Linked DNA regions of Homo sapiens: region 1 is linked to region 2. The links come from fine-mapping of genetic effects on gene expression. A gene starts in region 2. The other region holds a variant in brackets. All regions are shown on one strand. Distances are from middle to middle.

Region 1 (5,383 bases), 34 kb before region 2:
GCTGAGTAGAACAAAAAACAAAGGAAGGGAGAATTAATCCCTTCTTCCTGACCCCAGTCTTTTGCTGACTTTGGACTGAGACTTATACCTTCTGCTATGATGGTTCTCAGGCTTTCAAGCTTGTACTGAACAACACCTGCTTTCCTGGGTCTCCAGCCTGCAAATGGCAGGTTGCAAGCCTTCTCAGCCTTCATAATCATGTCAGCCAATTCCTCATAGTAAATCAACTTTTCTATGTATCTCTTACTGGTTCTGTTTCTCTGGAGAACTGTGACTAATACAGATTTTGGTACCAAGAGTTGTTCTAGAGGGACAGAATGTTAAGGATGAGTTTCCTGATGGTTCCAGGGTTCTTGGGATTGGTACTCTGATCTTATTAAACGTGTTAATGATTCTTTCCAGTTAGTAAAGTGAGCACTGAGTGCATAGCATGATCTGGCAATAGAAATACACAAAATAATTGCATTGGCCACTTCTAATCAGCCAGTTATAAGAGGCAAGGAGCTGGCTAACTGTGTATATGATATTTTTTTTTGATTTTTGGAAAACTAATTGTTGATGGCTGTTATGAAACCTTTGTTCTTGTCTTCTTAGTCTAAAAGAACTTAAGAGACACAGAGTGGAGAAGTTGCAGCATTAAACAATTCATTGCAAAGGAAAAAGAATATTTTGAAAGTTAAGTGCACAATAGATAGTACATCCTTAGAGAGAGGATTCAGTACAGGCTGCTGGTAAGGATGAGATCATAAAGACTGGCACTAGGGAGACTCCCTTTCTGGGAGTCTTACATGATTAATCATAAGGGGGTGGGAAGAGGTGTTACTAGTAAGCATGTTCTGGGTGGTCCTCTGGGTGCACAAGAGCAGTAGCTGTACATGCTTGTTCATATATCGCATGTCTCATTAGCATCTTAAATCTCCACCCAGCAGTGGGTTTTTTACTATTATAATGAACAAAGGGTCAGGCTGAGGATAGGTAAAATCAAAATGTATATGCTATATACAGGGAAATTTCCTACTGAAGATAGCTTTGCTTGAATTAGCTTGACTACAATGTGAATGCTGGGGCTTATTTTGTTAAAGTATGTGGTGCAGTAAGCCACAGTTGCTGCATACCAAGGGCATGTTTACTTCCTTGACTACCTATTCTGCCTCATAATGAGTATAATGAGGACAGTTGGTTGTTTCTAATGTCACTGGATAAAGTGGTGCAAAAGTGAGTGTAGGGATTTTTATTCCCAGCTCAAGTGCTCCATAAATAATCTGAAAGCTTCTATGTGCACCCTGAAGAAAACCCTATCTCCTGTAGCCCCAGAGCTGAGACTGTTGAAAATCAAACACAGCATCTCATCCTGTGACTGGCTGAATTACAACACAAATTAGAATTCCAGCCTTGCAGAGTGACTATTGTCAAAAGGAGGGCACTTACTGAAAAAAAAATGGGATTCTGTAAATTAGGATTGGGACATATGGGAAGACCTTGATGAAGCTGGGGACATTAAGCCCCTAAATTCTGATGAGTCTTCTTTGCTAGTGGAGAGGCTTCTCAACCCCATTGGAAGCAGCTTCTCCATTTCCAGTGATAGTACCCTCCAACCTGTCTGTGATGATTAACACTGCATTGCCTGAGGAAATTGTAATGGCCTCCTTTGAGGCAGTTGATATGCAAGACAATGTTGGTTCTCCTCCAGACCCAACTCCACCACCCTTCTTTGCTTCTAGACCTGAAACTAGACAGGAACAAAGTGTTACCTATGAAGAGATGTGCTATACTCCAAAGAGTTACTCAAAGTCTCTAATTTATACAGACAAAAATCTGGGAACATATGTCGGAATGGATAATAAAGGTGTTGGAAAATGATGGAAGGAACATAAAGTTGGATCAGGTCAAATTTATTGACATGGGCTCACTAAGCCAAGATTCTGCATTTAACATTGCAGCTTGGGGAGTTAGAAAGGGTGCTCACAGTTTGATTGGCTTACTAAAACATGGAAAAGATGAATTGGAAGTGCTGGACATGCCTTGGTTTAATCTAGAGGATGGGATTAAAAGGTTTAGGAATATTGGGAAATTAGATTTTTCACTTAAGAACTACTCATCTCGGGTGGATCATGAGGTCAGGAGATCGAGACCATCCTGGCTAACAAGGTGAAACCCC[G/A]TCTCTACTAAAAATACAAAAAATTAGCCGGGCGCGGTGGCGGGCGCCTGTAGTCCCAGCTACTCGGGAGGCTGAGGCAGGAGAATGGCGTGAACCCGGGAAGCGGAGCTTGCAGTGAGCAGAGATTGCGCCACTGCAGTCCGCAGTCCGGCCTGGGCGACAGAGCGAGACTCCGTCTCAAAAAAAAAAAAAAAAAAAGAACTACTCATCCACACTGGGAAGGTCAAGAAAGCATACCTTTCACCAATACTATGAGAAAGAAATTTGCGAGGAGAGCTCCAGCATCTTTTTCAGAACTCTGTGATGGCTCTTCTCTGTAGGCCAGAGCTCACTGCAGTCACTGAACTGGAAAACCTAAATATAATGGAAGTAAAGGATCCCAGGGTGGCAAGGGTCAAGTAATGGGACTCAACCACCAAAGGCAAGGTGAAGTGGTTATCATAATGACAGAGCCAAAGGAACAATTAGAATAATCTCACTTGTAGACCTATGCTTTGGCTAGTTGATCATGGTTTTCCTAGACGTGAAATAGATAGGAAGCCTACTGAAGTCTTAACTTGATCTGTATAAGCAGAAAACTTCTAAGTCAAGTGACGAAAGTTGAACTCGAATCATAAAAACAGAATCGTGGTCCCTTAATTCCCAAACTTGAGCCACTTTATAGAGCCCAAAACCCTTTGATTGAAGGGGAGGACCTCAAAGGGACCCTGGTCCATAACCAAATGTTTATACTGTTAGTCTTTCTCCTAGTCCTCCGCAAAGGGATGTACAACCTTTACCAACGTAACTGTGCATTAGAAAAAGGGAATAATCAGATCTTTTGTGAACTAGTGGACACTGGCTCTCTGAAGTGACACTAATTTCAGGAGATCCAAAGTGCTACTGTCAGGGTAGCAGCTTATGGAGGTCAGGTGATCAGCAGAGTTTTAGCTTAGTTCCATCTCACAATGGGCCCAGTGAATTCCTGAACCTATCCTGTGGTTATCCCCTAGTTCTAGAATGTATAATTAGAATACAGTCAGCAGCTGACAGAATAATCCACACATTGGTTTCCTTACCTATGGAGTGAGGGCTATTATGGTGGAAAAGGCCAAGTAGAAGCCACTAGAACTATCTGTACTTAGGAAAATAGTAAACCAAAAGCAATGCTCAATTCCTATAGGGACTGAAGAGATTAGTGCCACCATAAGTACTTGAAGGAAGGCGGGGTGGTGATTCCTACCATATGTCCATTCAACTCGCCTATTTAGCCTGGGCAGAAGACAGATGGATTATCACAAACTTAACTAGGTGGTGACTCCAATTGCAGCTACAGTACCAGATGTATTGCTTGAGCAAATTAACACAACTCCTGGTTCCTGGTATGCAGCTACCTGGTATGATCTGGCAAATGCCTTTCTCTCCATCCCTGTCTATAAGGCCGACCAGAAGCAGTTTGCTTTTAGCTAGCAAGGCTAGAAATGCACCTTCATGTCCTACCTCAGGGCATATCAACTCACCAGCCCTGTCCTAATTTTGTTCACAGGAATCTTGATTGCCTTTTCTTTCCACATCACATTGGTCCATTACATTGACGACATTATGCTCACTGGACCTAATGAGTGAGACATAGCAACTACTCCAGACCTATTGGTAAGACATTTGCATGTCAGAAGTGGGAAGTAAATCCAACAAAAATTCAAAGGCTTTTTCATGTCTCAGTAAAATTTCTAGGGGTCCAGTGGTATGAGGCATGTTGAGATACCCCTTCTAAGGTAAGTTTTTGCATCTGCCCCCTCCTACAACCAGAAGAGGCATGACATGCGGCAGGCCTCTTTGGATTTTGAAGACGTTTCCTCATTTGAGTTTGTTACTCTGGCCCATTTACTGAGTGACTTGAAAAGCTGCTAGTTTGGAGTAGGACTCAGAATAGGAAAGGTTCTGCAATAGGTCCAGGCTATTGTGTAAGCGGCTTTGTTGCTTGGGACATATGAACTTGCAGATCCAGTGGTATTTGAAGTGTCAGTGGCAGATAGAGATGCTGTTGGAACCTTTGGCAGGCCCACATAGATGAATCTCAGTGCAGACCCTTAGTATTTTGAAGAAAGACCTGTTATCCTATGCAGATAACTACTCTTTTGAGAAACAGCTCTGGGCCTACTGCTGGGCTTCAGTAGGGACTGAATGCTTACCGTGGTCAATTAAGTTACCATGCGACCTGAGCTGCCCATCATGAGCTGGGTGTTATCTGACCCACAAGCCATAATGCTGGGTGTGGACAGCAGGAGTACATCATCAAAGAACGTGTTATGTATGTGACTGGGCCCAGGCAGGACCTGAAGGCAAAAGCAAGTTACATGAAGAAGTGACCCAAATGCCCATGGTCCCTGTTCCTGCTACCTTGCCTTTTTTCTCCCAAGCTCATGGAGAGTTCCCTATGATGAGTTGACAGGAAGAAACAACATGGGCCTAGTTTATAGATGGTTCTGTGTGATATGTAGGCATCACCTGAAAGTGGATAGCCATAGTACACCAGCCCTTCTCTGGGACATCCCTGAAGGATAGTGGTAAAGAGAAATCCTCCCAGTGGGCAGAACTTTGGGCAGTGCACCTGGTTGTTCATCTTGTTACCCCATGTTGGCTAAAAGTAGAGGTCCTGAAGCATTTTATTATTTATTTATATATTTTTTAGAGATGAGGTATCACTATGTTGCTCAGGCTGGTCTTGAATTCCACCTGCCTCAGCCTCCCAAAGTGTTGGGATTATAGGCGTGAGCCACTGGGCCCAGCCCATTAAACCATTTTATTTTATTAGACAATTTTTCTAATTTCTACGTTTCTTCTGAACTTAATTTAAAAAACTGTATTTTAAAATTCAACCATGTATTAAGATCTAATAAAATAATAATGAAAAGCAATTCTGACTGATAGTCCCTGTTGAGCCATCAGTGAGAACACATTATAAAAAAGGTAGCTTATAAATATCATACCAATGATATGTGCAAAACAGGCATTTTAGAGAGAGATTTACCACTTTCCAAACAGTATCTTTTGTGATTCTGGGGACAAGGTGGTGTGGGTAGGGTAGAGATGATAAATACATCTTACATAGAAGCATGAATGTAACTTCATAAAATACAAGCTGAAAAATTAATTGGTTAAATGACTTACTGTGTAATTTTATTTCATATTACACAAATGTTAATCAAATGCTGAGTAGACATGCAGATGACAAGCAGTATATGA
Region 2 (5,383 bases):
ATGTTTAGCCTAGAATAAAAATTTATAGTGATAATCCATCTCTGGCTAATATCAATACATCAGACCTATTAAAGATGTCAACTGCAATTCAAACACATGGAAGAAAAGCAACCACACTAGAGCAACTAGAATTTTTTGAGCACTTACTAAATGCCAGGCATTATGCTAAGCATTTCACAGATGTTATTTTATTTAATCCTCACAAGAATCCTGTGTGATAATTTATAGACAAAGAATGTGAGGCTTAGGAAATTCAAAAAGCCAATGTTACACAAAGTACAAATTGTACTAGACTATATTTGTATGTTCCAGAAGTTTATACTGCATAATTTCACTTAACTAAAGTCCCAGATTTGAAGGCATTTCTGAGTAAATACACATAGCAGACCTGAGATGGGGCCTTTAGGACTTAAAGTAATTAAAATACTACTAGCCTAAAGCTTTAGCTGATTGGGAACAAATAGATTAATACTATTCTCTGAAAAGCTATTTACTTCAGTCTAGAGTCTCATGCAAATAAATAGGAAGAGCAAGGAGCTTGGACCATTCCCAGGCAACTACTGCTGTCCCCTAAATGTTTGTCAAACAGTAGACAGGAACTCATGATTTTTTTTTTTTTTTTTTTTTTTTTGAGACGGAGTCTTGCTCTGTTGTCTAGGCTGGAGTGTAGTGGCGCCATCTTGGCTCACTGAAACCTTTGCCTCCTGGGTTCAAGCGATTCTCCTGCCTCAGCCTCCCGAGTAGCTGGGATTACAGGCTCCCACCACCACGCCCAGCTAGTTTTTTGTATTTTTACTAGAGACAGGGTTTCACCATGTTGGCCAGGCTGGTCTTGAACTCCTGACCTCAGCTGATCTCTCTGCCTCGGCCTCCCAAAGTGCTAGGATTACACGTGTGAACCACCAGGCCCAGCCCCATGAGTAGATCTTGATTAGCATTTTTTAAAAAGTAAAAACAATAGAAAAAGCATGACTCATATGCTGCAAAGTTAGGCATTGTTTTGTGAAACTTTTCTTTCGTATGTATGTGTAGAGATATAAAAATACATCTTAGGTTGAAATATAAATTTTGGGGGTTTTTTTGCTTTTTTTTTTTTGAAACAGAGTCTCGCACTGTCACCCAGGCTGGAGTACTGGAATATGAAAAATCACCACAGTGCCTCATACACATTAAGCATCAAATTAATAATTAGTATTATTTCTGTAACTGTGAGCCTGAAATACTATATCTTTGATAAAGCCAGTTTAACCTACTATAATGCAAACAACAAAAAAACCAAAAAAACCTTAAAGCCACACTGCTGACAAAACTTAAGAGTAGGTCCTTTGATTACTCGGGAAATCATATGGTCCTTGAGTCTTTTAACTAAGAAAATAAGTTTGTGCTGATTCACTTGCTCATTTGGCCTTCCTTTGTGAGTAGTTGTATTTTCATTCACACGTTGGCTGACAAAACTTAGAGACGTAATGAGTAACCACGAAATAGTGTATGATAGTGAATAAATCATGAGCTTTAATATTTAGCTCTACCACTTACTGATTGTGCAAGATACAAAACCTCTGTTTTCTCATCTGTAAAATGAGGTCAATATCAGTACCTTCCTCACTTGGCTTTTGGAAGGAATAAACAAGATCTAGTAGCACAGTCCCAGCATACAGCATTTTTTTTTTTTCTGTAAGACAGAGTCTTGCTCTGTCGCCCAGGCTGGAGTGCAGTGGCGCGATCTCGGCTCATCGCAAGCTCCGCCTCCCGGGTTCACGCCATTCTCCTGCCTCAGCCTGTAGTCAGCTGGGACTACAGGCGCCCGCCACCGCGCCTGGCTAATTTTTTTTGTATTTTTAGTACAGACGGGGTTTCACGGTGGTCTCGATCTCCTGACCTCGTGATCCACCTGCCTCGGCCTCCCAAAGTGCTGGGATTACAGGCGTGAGCCGCCGCGCCCGGCCGCATACAGCATCTTAAATGATGAGTGCCTACCAAACACAGCTAAGGCTTCCTGGTTACTGTGCTGTGCATTGCGGTGTTAAGAGCACACGATGGGGGCTGGGTTCATATTCCAGTCCGGTCACTTTGGTAATGTAGCACTGAGCAAATTTAAGTCTCAGTCTTTTTATCAATAAAATAATAATAGGATTACCCCTTAGAGTTGGTGGGAAATTAACATAACTAATAATCGATGTAAAGCCTTAGTACGGTGCTTGAGGTATAAGTGGTCAATATCAGCCATAACTTCATTGTTTATGTTTTCAATAAGTGCTGCTGCTCTAATTTTACACCCATAAACTGCCTTTACTAATCTTCCTTCTTTTATGCCCAAATGGAATACACAAAAGAAATGCACAAGTTCAGACTACAAGTAATACTCCAGTGTTCTTATCAGTGAGGCCCTCTCGGACTTGAAAATCAAGTAGCTACCAACGTCTCGGGTCCATTCCCTTCGCCCTGCTGTAGTTTCTCCATTACCGCTGTTTATTGACAGTATTCCCCGCCTGAATGTAAGCCCCACGGGGCGGAGACTGTTTCACTGCGGTATCCTTAGCATCCTGATTAGTGCTTGGCATGTAACAGATGCTTAGAGCATATTTGAGAAAAATCAATCAACTGAATGAGCCCCAGCCCGACCCTAAAATCGCCTCCTGCTTGCCTCCCAAGAAGGGAGCTGAAAGAGGCAAAGGGCGTTAGGGCGTCTCCCGTCCCCCAGCTCTTTCCCCCTTACGCACCAGAAGGGTCATTGAATCGTTTCAAGGGCGCCTTAGGAAAGGACATGTTGACGGCCAGCTCCAGAAACTGAAGGTGACTGGCACTCCTCGACAACTGAATGCGGATTATCACTCCCTACCGGTTTCAAATTCAAATCTCCCCACATTCCCCACCCACCCCGGCGTTAGCCAATTGGAAAGCCAAACCCCTGGGCACACCAATCCCGCACAGGAACACGAAGAAAGAATGCTGGGTTCTGATTGCGTCCAATTAGCTGGCCTGCGAGTTTAGGCTGCCATCCAATAGGAGACCGTTACTGTTCCCCGCCCCACCCACCCAGTCATTCCCGGAGTTACTCAAGTGTAACCTAGCATTTGCGCAAGCGCACTTCCCTCCGGAGACGTTAGAAAGTGCATTTTGGCGTCACTTAGGGGACGGTGTAGTGAGTTCCGGCTTCACTGGTTCCAATTCTGTCCCATTGTTCGTTGCATGTGAACTTTTCTGGATTTCAGTTCTTTCATCCGGGGCCTGCCGGTGCCGTAAACGGCCATTCAAAGGGAAAAACGAACACGCACACCAAAGCGCTAGCTTGCGTTCCTGCGCATGCGCAGTGACCCGAGCGGAGAGGCCGAGGCGTAGCCTAAGCGTGGGATTCCGCGCGTGCGCTCGGCTCCGCCTGGTGCGGCCGCGGCCGGGAGGGACTGGATTATGTCGGCCCCGTTTGAGGAGCGGAGTGGGGTGGTACCGTGCGGGACCCCGTGGGGCCAGTGGTACCAGACCTTGGAGGAGGTGTTCATTGAAGTTCAGGTGCCGCCAGGCACGCGCGCCCAGGATATCCAGTGCGGCCTCCAGAGCCGGCATGTGGCGCTGTCGGTGGGCGGCCGCGAGATCCTCAAGGTAGCGGCAGCTCGGGGCTTGTGTTCAGTTTCCTCTTCCCAGACGCCCCCAGCCCCGTTTCCCTGAACGACTGTTGGGTGTCCCGACGGCTCCTGTGGCTGGCAGAAAGAGAAAGAGGATAACACTGACCAGGTTTGGGTCTGGTCAGAGCCCCCGCCTCTTCAGGGCAGGTGCTGAGTTGTGGAAATTTGAGGAGCCTATTTTCGTGTTTAGTTTTCAAACTAAGACTGCTGCTTCTGCTTCTCTGACGGGCTTCAGCTGGGAACAGATTAACTAGGTTGCTAAAGGAACAAATATTTCTTCCGTGCACTGAAGACAGGCAGGAAGACAACAGATAACGTACCTGCAGTGGAGAGGTTAAGCTCCTGTACGGAAGCGTAATTCATAAATAGATAAATATAGGAAAGGACAACAAAGAAAATAGGGATAGAATAACGGGCAGAGAATTTAGAGATGATGTCAGGTGATTAGTTTTCTCATCTAAAAGCTTGAAAATCCTGCATGTTTGTGGAGTGGTCAAGCAGGTGGTGAAGAGGTGTGTGCATAAAATAAGTAGTACTCCTTTTATTTCTTTTCACCAATGCTCTTTGGATCTGGACCCGCTTTTTCTTTGTTAAGTGTATAATTAAACTAACAGGTTGAAATTAGATTTAGTTCTCAGGTTAGATGCCCAAGATGTTTGATGGCAGTGTAATATGGTGAAGGGAGACTACTTGTTTCCTAGTTTTGTAAACTTGGGCGAGAGATTGTTCAGTGTCTCTATATCTTCCTTATCCACAAGATAAGGTAGTTATAGTACCCTTCTCATGGGATTGTTTTGAGCTTAACATGGTATTCACGTGTATGAAGAGCTTGGAGTATTCACTGGTATGTAATAAGTTCATACTATATGTTAGCTATTAGCTATTATATATATTACAGTATATGGAGGTGCTTTGAGTGCCTCAAGATTCGTGTGAAAGACATTATGTCAGCTTGGATCTCAGTTACTTTTCTGAATTGTACAATTCATAGTTTCCTCAACAATGGTTTTAGATTACGATTATAAATTAGTAAATCCAGTAACTTTCGGAATTTAGCAGTAGCTGCTGAATTTGGGATTTCTGATGTACGTATAGACCAGTGGGATTTTTTTCTCACTAATTTTGACATATTTTAAAATGTGGGCTTTTCCTAGTGACATTTAATTTCACTTTCTATAACTTAAATTTGGCAACAAATTAAAATGGATTTGAGTTTAGGCATTCTCTCTTTAAAAAAAAATATATATTTATTGAGACAGGGTCCCTGTCTCCCATGCTGGGGTGCAGGGGTGAGATTGTAGCTCACAGCAGCCTCAAACCCATGGGGTCAAGCAATCCACGTTGGCCTCCAAAGTCCTGGGATTACAGGCCTGAGCTACTGGGCCTGGTGCAGTCTCTTTTAAATTTATATTTTGTTTATTTTTTTAAAAAACATGAGTTTGTGAACAGTTAGTCACAACTAATCTATCAAATCTGGAATACGTAAAGTTTTTTTAATGCCGATTGCCCAACAAAAAGATTAAAACGTTTTTAAAAGTTTACTTTAAAAACAACATTTTGCCGGGTGCGGTAGCTCATGCCTGTAATCCTGGCACTTTGGAAGGCCTAGGCGGGCGGATCACAAGGTCAGGAGTTCGAGACCAGCCTGGCTAACACGGGGAAACCCCATCTCTACTAAAAATACAAAAATTAGCCGGGCGTGGTGGCGGGCGCCTGTAGTCCTAGCTACTTGGGAGGTTGAGGCAGGAGAATCGCTTGAACCC

Alleles and levels. Positions count from the first base shown, and alleles are read on the strand shown. Sizes are in standard deviations (SD) of each study's normalised expression.
In carriers of allele G in region 1, the expression in activated naive CD4 T cells of the gene that starts at base 2,827 in region 2 tends to be higher than with A alone (moderate effect, 0.73 SD a copy in Schmiedel 2018).

What was found.
Region 1: its variant is fine-mapped to the expression of HMMR in activated naive CD4 T cells (Schmiedel 2018, PIP 0.95).

Annotation. Positions count from the first base shown.
Region 1 is chr5:163,491,850-163,497,232 of GRCh38, reverse strand. HMMR-AS1 (HMMR antisense RNA 1) reads left to right here and starts at 3,175. Exons shown (of 4, transcript NR_109892.1): 1 at 3,175-3,534; 2 at 3,684-3,790. HMMR (hyaluronan mediated motility receptor) reads right to left here. Exons shown (of 18, transcript NM_001142556.2): 18 at 5,292-5,383. The variant G/A (reference allele first, on the strand shown) is at 2,159.
Region 2 is chr5:163,458,076-163,463,458 of GRCh38, reverse strand. It overlaps HMMR (hyaluronan mediated motility receptor), which reads right to left and starts at 2,827. Exons shown (of 18, transcript NM_001142556.2): 1 at 2,721-2,827. The coding sequence starts at 2,766. NUDCD2 (NudC domain containing 2) reads left to right here and starts at 3,357. Exons shown (of 4, transcript NM_145266.6): 1 at 3,357-3,597. The coding sequence starts at 3,409. RefSeq lists enhancers at 2,581-2,640, 3,391-3,640 and a silencer at 2,971-3,060.